Regions from separate parts of the Homo sapiens genome. Here region 1 is linked to region 2. A link means that fine-mapping ties the variant in region 2 to the expression of a gene that starts in the linked region. Tissue or cell type: atrial appendage. Region 2 holds a variant in brackets; the other region holds the start of a gene. All regions are shown on one strand. Distances are between the middles of the regions.

Region 1 (2,677 bases), 180 kb after region 2:
AGAAGGATTCAACTACATAATTTTAAGAGAAGACATGTATTTATGGTTCTAAAAGTAATGTTTGTCAAAAATGTTTTAAATAAAATTAAAAAGAAAAACAAACATTTTCATGAACAGTAATGTTTGTGAAAATTCAAAGGTACAGAAGAGAGTAAGTAGTCAAAGTTCTTTTTCCTCCTCTCTCATTTCTCACACGTGGGCTCAGTGGGGTGTCCCCCTCCTCAGCCACCAAACTGGCAGGGAGGTTTGGCATCAGTTTGGCCTGGGGAGTCCTCAGGATGACCCACAAGTCCACACAAATGAAGGCTTGCTTTTCTAACCGGCAGAGTTGGTGAGGAGAGAGCCGAACGCCAGGCTTTCCAGCTTACCCAAAGTAGAAGCAGCTTGTGCCCTTGGAAGGGAAGAAGCCAGCCTCGTCACCCAACTCCATCCAGTGCCATGATCCCTAAAGGGCCCTGCACAAACGCTCCTGGGTCCTATCACTGACAAAAACCTCTCACACAGGAAGGGTCTAATCATACACCTTCTTTCATTCAAATGCCTCTTTGTTGGGGTTCTGGGGAGAGGGGGCATTCAGGCTGCAGGGAGGGATGGTCTCTCTCTGGGTCTCTCTCTGAGGGTCTCAGCCTCCTGCCCCCACAAAGACCCCCCAGGTTTGGAGGGCCCAAGCAGAGCCGACCACATACACAGCCCTCCTGGTCCTGGGAGAGGTGCATTCTGGAAGGCAGGAAGGAGTCTGTTTCTAAATCCCTTTCTCAGTGCCATCCTCCATCAAGGTGGTCTCCAGATCTGACACGTGTTCTGCCTTCCCATAAAATCAGGCTCAGGAGATGGTGCTTCTTGGTTCTGGATATACCCCTCCCTGCCATCTACCTGCCTGGTAGCCTCTGTGCCTCCCGCCTCCAAGCCTGCCCTGACTTACTGGCAAAAGAGGGTGTCCTCGTCCAAGAGGGCCTCATGGGCACACGGGCTGTTCTCATCCTCGTCTCCAGTGACCACCATCATGAGACCCAGTAACAGTGCTGCTGTGACCAGCCTCATTGTCCAACCCATGGGCACCTGGAACAGAAAGAACTTTAGAGCGGCTGGATCCCCTGCAGGGGCCTTCCTGCCCACTACCTGTGCCCCCGACCCCAGGGGCCCACTTGGCAGGATAGAGACCTCTGGTTAAGCACAGGGAGAAGGACAGGCAGCTTCCAGGGCTCCGCAGCTAATCCAGTCCACCACCCGGACACAAGTACTTTGGGAGGACTGGGCCTCTTCCAAGTTGGACTCAATGTACGTTCCTGGCAGAGGCCCCTCCCCTGGCAGGACACAGCTTTGTTGTCACTCTTGTCCTGGCTGCCAGGGCAGAGAGCAGGCTGCAAAGTAGAAGTGCTTATATAAGCTCCTCGGTGCAGCTCCTTGTCCAGTCCCTGCTGTTGGCCCAGGGATGGTCAGCTGGCCAAAGGCCAGCCTGCTCCTTGGCTGTAAGGCAAGCCCTGGGAAGCTGGTGACCCCAGGCTCAGGGCTAGGAGTTGGGCTGTGCCCCTCAGACCGGCTCTGACTCTCCTGGCCCCCATTCTTCCACCACCTGTCTCCACAGCCTGTGAGCTTCCCCAAGGTGGAGGTGGTTGGACACAGTGACCTTGTGTAGGAGGGACTGCTGCAGGGGGTGGGGGTAGGTGCACCCCAGACCGAGGCCAGCTCCGAAGGGCCAGCTCCGAAGGGCCAGCTGAGGACAGAAGGGTGCGTCTGGGTGCACCTTGCAGCTGTGCTGCACTCAGCACTCTCCCAAAATAATCGTATCTGGAGAAGGAGGTCTGGGGAGCTGCTTGGGGCTCAGAAAGGGGTGGCCTGCCCCAGCAGTGCACTGGGAGGAAGGGGAGCCGGGGACTGTCGCCTGCATTCCCTTGGGGAACAGTCCTGCCACCAGGTGCATGTGGGACTCTGGTTTGAGCCTGAGTGGGCAGGGAGAAGAATAAAGGCGGCTTGCAACAGGCTTTCCAATAGCTCTGCTCTCTGCTTCTCAGAGGCGGGGGTGGGAGAGACGTGCCAGCAACTCAGGACTCCTGGCTTCTGCTCTGAGCTCTCTCTGGATGCTGGGAGGCCACTGTGTCTCCCTAGAATGCACCACTTTTCCTTTTCACAAACAAGTAAAATAATTCCTGTCACCGTGGTGCCTTGCTAAGGAATATGAGATCATCGCTGTAAAGTACACGCAGCTAGACCTTTAGAGAAACTACTTTCAGCATAGTCTGCTTTCTGGCTCAATTCCTGCCTCCAGGATCCCAACCTGTAGCAAAAAGCCCCCCTTAGGGGCTACATATTAAACACATTTCTCAATCATTAGGTTCTCTGAAGTACAACCAGGACTCCCCCTTGCCCCAACCAGAAAACATATTCCCAAGATCTCCCCTAGTGGACAGAGTCTAATAGTAGCCTCCTCACAAGATCATTATGAGAATGAAATCAACCAGGTTAAGCCCTCAGTAAGGTGCCTGGCACATAGTAAATGCTCAATAATTTATGAATAGTCTAAGTATTCTCTCACGGATCCATCCATTCATTCATTCCTTTGCAACCCACTTCACTCATAGGCATTAAGCACCTCCCACGTGCCTGCCCCATGTTGGGCCCTGGGGTATAGGTTGAGCATGCAGCTCACAGGACAGCCACAGCCAAGGAGATGCTGCCA
Region 2 (2,677 bases):
CTGCCCCAGGCCCAGTGGAACAGAGCAAGGAATGTCTCTCTGTGAATCCAGGTGCTGAGGTGTGGAGGCCCCTCTGGGGTTAGAGAGAGCTCTGGGTACAAGGGCTGATCAATTTGGAAGCAGATTGGGCACTTTGGGTCTGGAAAGCCACCAGGTGTTGTCTCTTTGGCCCCTGGCTGGTTGCGGTGTCTGTGATTCTGGGCTCTGGTCCTTCTGGACTAGGATGGAGGGTGCGGTGGGGAGAGTGTTAGTCTCCTCGCGTTTGGTCAGATCTCAGCCAGAGAAGAAAGCCAGAGCTGTGTCCTCTCTCCTTCCCTTCACTGCCTTCCCCTTCTCTCCGATTCCAGCCTCTTCCTCCCTGTCCTCTCTCCTCTCTCCCGCCTCTCCCCCTCCCCTCCTTTGTTCCGCCCTCTCCTCCTCTTCTCCCTCCTCTCTCTCCTCCTCTCCTCCCTCCTCTCTTCCCTCTTTCCTTCACAGAGGACCTCAGCCTTCCATCAGAGAACAGATTTCTTCTGACCATTCGATCCCCAATCTGCCTCCCTCCAGATCGGTGCTGTCCAGTGCGACATTCTGTGATGGTGGAGTTGTCCTCTCTTTGTGTTGTACTATAGAGTAGCTGCCAGCTGCCTGTGGTCATCAAAGTTCGGAGGAATGGAGTTGTAAAAAGAATTATTTGACTCTCGTTCTGTCACCCAGGCTAGAGTGCAGTGGCGTAATTACGGCTCAAGTGATCTTCCCATGTCAGCCTCCCAAGCAGCTGGGACTATGGGCATGTACCACCACACCCAGCTAATTTTTATAATTTTAAAATTTTTTTAGAGACGGGGGTCTCAGCACATTGCCCAGGCTGGTCTTTAACTCCTAGGTGATCCTCCTGCCCTGGCCTCCCAAAGTGCTGGGATTATAGGCATGAGCTACCATACCTGGAATTATTTATTAATTTTGTACTTATTATGGGCTACCACAAGTGAAATTATTTAATTTGAATTAATTTAAATTGAAATAGCCACATGCACTTAGTGACTACCATAGTGGACATCAGAGCTGTGGGTGATAATAAGTGCTGGATTCCTGGGAAGTCCCTGGGGGTGCCCCCACCCTTGTTCAGGCTCTGTCCCTTCCTCAAGTGCCACTGTGTAGATCCAGGGTCTCTGCTGTGCCCAGCCTCCTGTACAGCACCCGAGAGAGGCCACAGACGACTGGGTTCTGGACTTGAACCTGGGTGACCTTGGGCAAGTCACCAGATCTGTGGGTCTCTGTGGCCTCTTCAGTAAAATAATGAAGATGATTTATTGCAAGCCTCAAGGTTTGTGTTTCTTTGGGCAGGAGCCTACTGTGATCAGAGCTGGGGGAGCCAGTGTGAGCAGCAGGGTGAGTGG[G/A]GTGTGCATGGGTGTGCACGCTCAGGGGGGTGGGGGGCTTGAGGGGTGGCAGGGGGACCCTACGGGATGTTGCTTTTCAGCCTGGCGCTGCCTCGCTGAGTAGCCTGAGACTAGGAAAAGGCTTAAAGAATTCACAGTGGGAAGGCTGCAGCCTGACTCTGCTCCTGGCCGGCGTTTGCCCGCTGCCTGGCCCTGGCTGTTCCAACGATGGACTTCCTTCCTCTTTGGCCATAAAAGTCTCCCGGAAAGCCTTCCCACAGAGGCCCCGGGGGCTTTCTCAGGGAATGTGTGAGTGTGTGCTCACACAAGCACTGTGGAGCAGGAGCCCAGGGCCGCGTGCAGGCTCTCCCACAGAGCTGTGGGTCCTGGCGCTGGAGGAGAGGTTCGTCCCAGCCTGGGTGGAGAGCGGAGGAAAGGCTGGCCCTTGCCTGGACTTGGGCCCTGGCTTATGCAATGCTCAGACTCTTAGTCAACTTCAGCAACTGGGGCACATCCACACGCATGTGCACACACGTGCAGGCACACACCCGGGCAGGGAGGTGTGAGGAAGGGAGACCAATGAGCCTGTGCCAAGCTCTGCTTACAGATCTCCCCAGATCTGGAGAGAAAAGGGGAGCCCTTCTCCAAGAGGGGGCTGCGCTCAGGCTGCTAGGGTATGATGATGGCTCCAAGCCTGTGGCTGAGGTTGGATGGACCATTGAGAGGAGCCCTCCAGGGTGAGGGGACAGAAGCCCATCAGTCCGTATTGATGGAATGTGGCTACAGTGTGGAGAGAAGAAGATACTTTCTCTTCCTGCCCCAGAAGGTACCCAAGCCTCCGGGATGCTGGGTCACAGAACCCGCCTGGCAGAGAGTTGCATCAGAGCGAAACTGCATGCTAGATGCCTGAGGGGAGAGGGCACTGAGGACTTGTGATCCTAATTTCCCAACCTTCAGCTGCTCAGGGTCAAGTCCTTAGGCTCCACTTGCTCTTCTCCCCTCCCCAGCATTCTTCTGTACTAGGTTGCACATGATGAGGGTGGTCTGAGGGGAGAACAAGGAGGGGGTGTGACTCAGAGTTCACCCGGCTGTCAGCAGCCCTGAGTCAGAGGGAGGGTGGGGAGGTGGGTGGAACAGCTTTTGGTAGTCTTGGGGTTCCCTATAAGCAAGAGCATCCCAGAAAAATAGAAGAGAGCCCCCCAGAAGCTACGAGGCTCCCACATGCAGGGTAGGCCTTTTCTCGGCCACCACTACACACCCCAGGAGAACAGGAGAGGCCTCCACGAGTCCTGGATGATTTAGGTGCGGACTTGCCTGGG

Evidence for each region. PIP is the estimated chance that this variant, and not a neighbour inherited with it, causes the effect.
Region 1: PEBP4 starts here. The variant in region 2 is fine-mapped to the expression of PEBP4 in atrial appendage (GTEx, PIP 0.91).

Annotation. Positions count from the first base shown.
Region 1 is chr8:22,926,662-22,929,338 of GRCh38, forward strand. PEBP4 (phosphatidylethanolamine binding protein 4) reads right to left here and starts at 1,253. Exons shown (of 7, transcript NM_144962.3): 1 at 1,162-1,253; 2 at 923-1,059. The coding sequence starts at 1,053.
Region 2 is chr8:22,746,200-22,748,876 of GRCh38, forward strand. The region is part of intron 4 of PEBP4 (phosphatidylethanolamine binding protein 4); the gene reads right to left. LOC124901908 (a long non-coding RNA gene) reads left to right here. Exons shown (of 3, transcript XR_007060855.1): 3 at 1,327-2,677. Among named protein-coding and RNA genes, the nearest start is that of EGR3, 54 kb to the left of the region's middle. The variant G/A (reference allele first, on the strand shown) is at 1,380.